3 separate regions of the Homo sapiens genome follow, and all the other regions are linked to region 3. Evidence: fine-mapped expression QTL. A gene starts in region 3. Each other region holds a variant in brackets. All regions are shown on one strand. Distances are between the middles of the regions.

Region 1 (2,754 bases), 21 kb before region 3:
CTCACTGCAGCCTTGACCTCCAGGGCTTACGCGATACTCCTACATCAGCCTCCCGAGTAGCTGAGACTACAGGTGCATGCTGCCATGTTGACCTCCGGGGCTTAAGTGATCCTCCTACCTCAGCCTCTCGAGTAGCTGAGACTAGAGGTGTGCGTCACCACCACGCTCAGCTAAAACACATATTCTTCATCAGACTTATGTATTGCAAATATTTTCTTCCATCCTGTGGTTTGTCTTATCATCTTTTTTTTTTTGAATTGGAGTCTCTGTCGCCCAGGCTGGAGTGCAGTGGCGTGATCTCAGTTCACTGCAAGCCCCGCCTTCTGGGTTCACACCATTCTCCTGCCTCAGCCTCCTGAGTAGCTGGGACTACAGGTGCCCGCCACCACGCCCGGCTAATTTTTTGTATTTTTAGTAGAGACGGGGTTGCACCATGTTGGCCAGGATGGTCTCGATCTCCTGACTTTGTGATCCGCCTGCCTTGGCCTCCCAAAGTGCTAGGATTACAGGCATGAGCCACCTTGCCCGGCCCCCGTCTTATCATTTTTTTATGGACATCTTTTGAAGAGCAAATGTTTTTAATTTTAATGAAATTTTTAATAAAATTGAATGCATCCATTTTTCCTTTTGTGGTTCTTGTTTTTTATGTCCTAAGAAATCTCTGCCTTGACCTCATGGTCACTAAGATTTACTGCTTTCTTCCAGAAGTGTTACAGTTTTAGCTTTTGCATTCTGAGTCACCTTTGTGTATGGTGAAATGCAGGTCAAGCGTCATTTCTTTCCTTATGTATAAACAGTTGCTAAAAAGACTTTTCTTTCCATGTGGAATTACGTTGACATCTTCATTGAAAATCAATGGACTATAGAGGTGGGGTCTATTTCCAGTCTTTCTATTCTGTTCCACTCACCTGTGTGTCTATTCTTCAGGGACACTGCGGCTGACTGGATTACTGAAGCTGTAAGTAGAATAGAAACTTTGAAATCAGGGCACGTATCAGCTCCACTTTGATTAATTGCTTTGGCAATTCCAGGTCACATGTGTTTCCATTTTAGACTCATTGTGTCAATTCCTACAAAAAAGCCTGCTGCGATTTTGACTGGCAGAGCCGATGTTTTAACAGGATTGAGTCTTTTCATCACGGACATGCTGTCTCTCTTCATCCCTCCGCATCTTCTTCAATTTATCTCAGCAGTGTTTATAGTTTTCAGTGAACAGGTCTTGTATATCTTTTGTTAAGATAATTACTAAGATTTTACTTTTTGTTATTACAAATAGAATGTAATTTCTGATTTCATGTTCCGATAGTTTGCTGCTACTATATAACGATAAACTTTGCACCTTAGCCTTGATATCTGAAATCTTGCTAAATTCACTTAATAGTTCTAGCAATTCTCTGTAGCTTTCTTAGGACCCTCTGCATAAATAATCATGTCATCTACAAATAAATACAGTTTACTTCTTCCTTTCTAATCCTTGTGACTTCAATTTGCCTTTTTTCTTACCTTATTGC[A/G]GTGGCTGGGACTTTGAGTATAATGTTGGACAGAAGAGTGAGAATGGGTGTCATCCTTGTTCTTGATTTTAGGGATAAAATGCTCAATATTTCGCCATCAAAAGTACAACGTCTAGTGTAGGTTTTTCATAGATGTTCATTTATCAGACTCAGGGAGTTTCCTTCTATTCTTAGTTTACTGAGGTTTTTTTAAAAAAATCATAAAACAGGTATAAATGTTTCCAAATGTCTTTTCTGCATCTATTTCAGTGATCATCCTTTCCTTCTTTATTCTAGTAATATGGTGACGACAAAGATTCATTTATGAATCAAAACAACCTTGTATCACTAGGATAAACCACACTTGGCCGAGGTGTACTGCCCTCTTAGGCTATTGTTGGATTTCACCTGCCAATACCTTCGTAAGGATTTTTGCCTGTGTTCATGAAGGATAGTGGTCTATAATTTTTTTTAGGTGTCTTTGTCAGGTTTTGGTATTGGATTATATTGCCTCATAAAACAAGCTGGGAAATAGGCCCTCCTTTTTTTAAAGAGAGACAGGGTCTCACTCTGTTGCCAGGCTGGAGTGTAGTGGTGCGATCATGGCTCACTGCCGCCTTGAGCTCCTGGGATCAAGGGATCCTCCCACCTCAGCCTCCCAAGTAGCTGGGGCTACAGGTATAATTTTTTTTGTACACAGGGTCTCACTATATTGTCCAGGCTGGTCTCGAACTCCTGGCCTCAGGTGATCCTCCTGCCTCAGCCTCCCAAAGTGCTGGGATTACACGTGGGAGCCACAGCACCCGTTCCCCCTCCTCTTTTATTTTCTGAAAGAGTTTGTGTAAGAATATTGTGATTTCTTCTTTGAATGTTTGATAGAATTCACCAGGAAACCATGTATATTTGCAGGAGTTTTCTTGGTAGGTAGGTTCTCCGGTAATTAATTCAATTTCCTGAACAGAAAGAGGACCATGCAGATTTCCATTGCTTTTGACAAGTTATATTCTTCCAAGAGTTTATCCATTGCATTGAAATTGCTACATTTACTGGCCTAAAATTGTTCATCATAGTCTCCTATTATTTTGAGACATGGCCTCACTCTGTCACCCAGGCTGGAGCAAAGTGGTGTGACCTCAGCTCACCACAGCCTCAGTCTCCCAGGCCCAGGCCATCCTCCCACCTCAGCCTCCCAAGTAGCTGGAACACAAGCAAGTGCTGCCACACCTGGCTAATTTTTTGATTTTTTGTAGAGACAGGGTCTCGC
Region 2 (2,754 bases), 35 kb before region 3:
ACGTGGGGAGCCAGCTGAGGGGGATATGTGGAGGTGTCAGGATGACCCTGGGTTTTTGGTTTGGGCCACTGGGTGGGAGGAGGAGGAGGGGACCCAGAATTGAGAGATGGGGCCTGGGGGGCTGCTCAGAGGGTGGGCTGGGAGGTGCCTGTCTGTGTCTGGCCTGGCCTCCAGACCCTGCCTGGCTGGACCTGCTGTTCGTGCCTGTTTCCGATTTTATCCTCCAAACCAGACGCCCAGCCTGGTGCAAATGCAGGAGTGGAGTTTCCAGGGGGATGTGGACTCCTTCCCTCCACCCCCACCTCGGTCCCTGTCTCCTTCCCTCCGCCCCCACCTCGGTCCCTGTCTCCTTCCCTCCGCCCCCACCTCGGTCCCTGTCTCCTTCCCTCCGCCCCCACCTCGGTCCCTGTCTCCTTCCCTCCGCCCCCACCTCGGTCCCTGTCTCCTTCCCTCCGCCCCCACCTCGGTCCCTGTCTCCTTCCCTCCGCCCCCACCTCGGTCCCTGTCTCCTTCCCTCCGCCCCCACCTCGGTCCCTGTCTCCTTCCCTCCGCCCCCACCTCGGTCCCTGTCTCCTTCCCTCCGCCCCCACCTCGGTCCCTGTCTCCTTCCCTCCGCCCCCACCTCGGTCCCTGTCTCCTTCCCTCTGCTCCCATCTCGGTCCCTGTCTCCTTCCCCACAGGAGGAGTCTGGGGGCTCCCGCGTCACAGGGGCGTGGCCCAGGGCATCAGGTGGGGCGGTGGGTACTGGGCTCAGAGTGGCCTTGGGCTGTCCAGTCCCTCCCTTTCTCCCCAGGACCAGTGACCCTCCCAGCCCCAGGACACTTCTTGGGCCAGGGCCCAGGGCAGAGCCAATGCTCCCCCAGATACTCCCTGGCTGCAAACCTCAGGCTGGGGGTTTTTGGGGACAGGGATGCAGGTGTCTAAGGACACGACCCTCCAGGCAGTGGACGTTTCTGCCTGGGTGGAGGGCACGGTTACGAGAGCAGGGCCCGCGCTCTGGCATCCTGGTGCCCGGGCCCTCTGCCCTCAAGGCCTGTCCTGCCCCAGCTCAGCCCTCTCTGGCCAGGCCCATCACTGTCAGCAAACACCCCCACACTGCTGCCCCCCCAGATGGCCATGGCAGCCCTCCCGGGGCCCGTGTCTGCAGCCCCCACGCAGCCCGGCCGGCCGATGGAAACGCACACCCACACTCTGTCCCACCTCACTCCGAGCTGGGGGTTCGGGGACCACAGGTCCCACCTGCACAGGTTGCATCTGGGGAATGGGCCTGTGGCAGAAAATGTGCGGCGCGGGGCGGGGGGTCCCAACCAGGCAGCCCCAACCTGGACTCTCCTCCACCCCCGTCCCACCTCCTTGCCCCCAGCACACGGTGGCGGAGTGCGTGGGGCCAGCCTGGCGGGGGCTTTGCTCCCCGACCTGCACTTAGAGAACAGAGCATCCTACGGGAGAGAGCAGCTCGGAACGCAGCTTGAGTAATGCCG[A/G]CTTTATATCAGCACACCCAGTGCCCCCACGTTCCCGCTGGCCCAGGTCCCGGAGACCATGATGGCACCCACAGTGGACTTCGCAAAGGAGCGTGGGGACCCCGAAGGCCAGGCCACCCCTCAGAGGGGGGTCCCATGCTAAAGCAGACGGTGCCGGTGCCGCAGGGCGTCTGAGACCCACGGTGGAGCCCGGGCCTGGCGTGCGGGAGGCGGCCACGACGGCGCCTTTCTCCCAGGAACTCCGGGAGGGACCCCAGGACTCAGCGCCAGGGCAGCCTTGGCAGGTGCAGTGAGGCAGTGACTTGTGGGGGTTAGATGTGGGCCTGCCCCACGTGGGCAGGGATCAGCCAGGCATGGGGGTCCAGCGGATCCGAGCGGGGCCACAGAGCTCTGGAGGACTTTTCTGCACAATGAATTTCTGCTTAAAAACAGAGATCAAGAGGAAGCTCTATCCTGCAGCTCCGGAAATGGGTGGCTGCGTGCTTGGGGTCTCCGCCACGCGGGAGGACAGCCCAGAGGCACCCTGGTCTCAGGCAGCTGGTTCCTAGGCTGTGTCCTCCCCACTGGCCGGGCACCGGCTGGAACGGCACGAGGACCAGCCTCACTGTTCTCAGAGGGGTCTCGGGCCACTGGGTGTGGTGGTGCTGGAGGAGTCCTGCCCGCTGTGGGCTCTGGAGGGCACGGCAGCAGAGCCCCTGGCTTTTCTAGGCAGAGCGGCACCTGCCCCATAGATCGTGCCAGCTTTGGCTGCAGGCGCTGGGGCCTCACCGTGTTTCCTGGGGGGGCCCGGACCCCCCAAGGCCTCGATCTGAAGCTCTGAGGTCTCATGGATGCCTGCTCCTGGTCCGATAAACGAGATGGCTGTGGTGGGGAGGAGCCTCAGGCGGCCCGGGACCCTTTGGCGTCCGTCGCTGGGAGGCGGAGGGACTCAGAGCCGAGGCTGTGCCCAGGACTGTCCCGGGCGCCGGGCGATGCCAACACTTTGTGCTGGTTCCCGCCAAGGGGTCGGCCTCCGGGTCCCTGCCGCCAAGTGCGTGGCGTGGTCTCGGCCTCCAGGTCAGACATTGCTGATACGGGCCTCCCCCGGGAAGGCAGCGGGATCCGTGGCCCTGTCCAGGGGCCGCTCCCGCCTGACGTAGCGCGGCTTCCGTACTGAAACGGGTCAGAGACAGGCGAGGTCAGAGTGGGACCTGGACAGCAGGGACAGTGCAGGCCTCAGCCCTCACCGGAGGCTCTCGGGAGTGGGCATATGGCACAGGCGCCCGGGGCTGTT
Region 3 (2,754 bases):
ACAAATAGGGTGCAGTGCGTACTGCTCGGGTGATGGGAGCACCAAAATCTCACAAATCACCACTAAAGAGCTTACCCATGTAACCAAGTAACCAAACACCACCTGTACCCCAGTAACTTACGGAAAAATAAAAGAGGAAGACGCAGCTCTGCCTTCTCTGCACACCCTGGTAATACTAAGAAAAATGAAAACCAAAAAAAGGAGGCCAAGTTTGACATCCTGAAATTTAACAGGACGAGGCGGCTAAGAATTCAGCCACAAAATAGTTCCCGGGGAAGAAGCCGCGTTTGCTTTGAAACGCGGTAAGAAATGCCCCCGAACACCTGGGCTTAAATTACACCCAAACTCAATCATCGACTCGCTGCCACCGGAACACGCGCTCCCGAAAAACTGCACCCCGACTAGCCCTCGGCTACTCCAGGTGACAAACGGACAAAAACAAATCCTAAAGCCTCGCGGGAAAAAGACCTGAATCGTGGCCGACTTCTAGGACACCGGGGACCGCGCCGGTGCCCCCACTCCCGGCTGCCGGGAAGGCGAGGCGAACGCGCCCCCTTTCTTCCCCCGGGCGCCCGTCCCATCCCCTCCCCAGGGACCCCCTCCCTGCCCCGAGAACCCCCTCCCCTCCCCAGGTGCCCCCTCTCCCCCAGAGACCCCCTCCCCTCCCCAGGGACCCCCTTCCCTGCCCCGGGAACCCTTCCCCTCCCCAGGGACCCCCCTCCCTCCCCAGGGACCCCCTCCCCTCCCCAGGGACCCCCTTCCCTGCCCCGGGAACCTTTCCCCTCCCCAGGGACCCCCCCTCCCCGCTCCGGGAACCCCCTCCCCTCCTTAGGGACCCCCTCCCCACCCCTCCCCGGGGTCCCCCTGCCCTCCTCAGACGCCCCTTCCCCTCCCCAGGCGTCCCGCTCAGCCCGGGCGCCTTTCCCCCATAGGACCGCGGCCAGGCTCGTTGGGAGGCGGCGACGAGGACGCGGGCCCAGGCGCTGGCGGCTCCTCCGCGCGCCGCACAATGGGGGACGCGCAGGGAACGTCCCTCGGGCCGGGCCAGGGCCGCCGACCTTTGTCTGCCTCTCGCACTCCCTGCGCCGACCCGGCCGCCCAGACGGACCCCAGCGCCCCAACCCGCTACCCTCACGCCTGCCCCCAGCCCCTCACTCACCCCGGCGCCCTCCGGGTTTCTCTTTCGTACACCCCGCCCTCAGGCGGTGGCGCCGCGCCCCCTGGGACTTGTAGTCTTTCTTCCGCCCCGGCCCCGGCGCCAGGCCCCGCAGCTCCCAAAGAAAACTACAACTCCCGGCGGCCCGCGCGAGAGCCGCCCTCGCCTGGTGGTACCATCGCGCGCGGCCGTGGGTGGGGCGCCGGGGCGGGGCGCGAAGCGCCCTGGGAAATGTAGTCCTAGAAGAACCAGCGCATGTCTCGGGTCCCTGACACGGAGGGACTACATTCCCCCGGATTCCTCGCGCGCCGGCTGCTTGGCGTTGCCGGGAGACGGGGCGGGGCGTCGTCGGGGTCTCCCGGGCGACCGCACAAGCGTCGGCGTCCTTAGCGTTCCGCCGGTTTAGGCGGAGGCGGAGGCGGAGCGTTTGGGGGCGGCCGGGGCGGCTTCGGCTTCATCGGAGAAGGCGGCGCGGCTGCACCAGGTTTGGCCGCGGGCGCGCGGGGCCAGCGCCCTCCAGACCCACGGAGCGCCCCGAGCGCCTCGCGAGCCGCCGCCAAATGCGCCCCAGGTCCGCGGCCGGCGCCAGTGCTGGGACCTCGGCGGCCGGTGTCGGAGCGCGGCGGGAGAGACCCTGCCTTGGGTGCGGGACTGGGACGGCTCGGACCCAGAGGGCTCCCGGGGCTTCGCCTCTCGGACGGGTCAGGGCTCTGCGGTCTCAGGACGCTCCCCCGTGAGTCTCGGCGGCCCCGGGGTCTGGGCGGCGTCGCTGCCCCACAGGCCGGGCGCGTGGGTTTTTCCGGGGCTCTGCCTCTGAGCCACCCTCGGAGAAAAGACAGCTCTGTGCGTCCCGCGGCGCCCGCAGCTTTCGGCAAACATGTTTAAAGGAGCTCCCCGAAGGAACTGGGGACGTCCGTCCGCTCATCAAAGGCTTCAATCCTGTCGGTGTCCCCGGGCCCTCTCCTAGCTGGGCCAGCGCGCAGGGTGGGGGGGCGCTGCAGGTGTCGCGGCCCCCCCCAACCTCCGCAGACCCTTCCAACCCCTCAGACCCCCCAAAACCCCCAGATCCCCCAACCCCCCATATACCCCCAACCCCTCAGACCCCCCAACCCCCCAGACCCCCCAACCTCCCAGGCCCCCAGACCCCCCAGCTCCCTTGCTCCCGGGAGCTCCCAGGCCCGTCCTGCATGCGCCTTGGGGTTGTTCCTCCTTGATGGACGCCGCCTCCGGGTTCCATCCCAAGTTTAAATGCCAGAGATTTCAATGGAAATAAAGCCCCCATCTTAACAGCGTGAGGATGTTTTGTAAACAGTATTGGGGACAGCTGGGGAAGTCACATTTGTGTCTTCTCTTTAGAGGGACAGTGTTCGCCTGAGGGTCCATCCCAGGGTTCCCTCAGGGCCTCTGGAGGAGTTGATGCCACCAGTGTCTGGCCGTGGGACACCTGGGCGTGGGCGCCCAGCACCAGGGGTTCGCTGACAGCTGCAGGGTTTCCGGCCATGCGCCCGCGGACGTGCAGCTTCTGTGTCGGTCCCATTAAGAGGAACCTGGCCTGGGCGACGTTTGAGGACCACGGGGAGGACACAGTCGCGGTCCCC

Evidence for each region.
Region 1: its variant is fine-mapped to the expression of C1orf159 in whole blood (TOPMed, PIP above 0.99). The same link has a PIP of 0.9 or more in thyroid.
Region 2: its variant is fine-mapped to the expression of C1orf159 in whole blood (TOPMed, PIP above 0.99).

The regions. Positions count from the first base shown.
Region 1 is chr1:1,094,169-1,096,922 of GRCh38, forward strand. All of the region lies in intron 1 of C1orf159 (chromosome 1 open reading frame 159), which reads right to left. Among named protein-coding and RNA genes, the nearest start is that of C1orf159, 21 kb to the right of the region's middle. The variant A/G (reference allele first, on the strand shown) is at 1,512.
Region 2 is chr1:1,080,355-1,083,108 of GRCh38, forward strand. It overlaps C1orf159 (chromosome 1 open reading frame 159), which reads right to left. Exons shown (of 10, transcript NM_017891.5): 10 at 1,469-2,633. The coding sequence ends at 2,539. Among named protein-coding and RNA genes, the nearest start is that of RNF223, 7.4 kb to the left of the region's middle. RefSeq lists enhancers at 145-847, 848-1,549 and a silencer at 1,567-1,746. The variant A/G (reference allele first, on the strand shown) is at 1,482.
Region 3 is chr1:1,114,901-1,117,654 of GRCh38, forward strand. C1orf159 (chromosome 1 open reading frame 159) reads right to left here and starts at 1,189. Exons shown (of 10, transcript NM_017891.5): 1 at 1,160-1,189. RefSeq lists silencers at 880-1,479, 1,650-1,769, 1,810-1,859.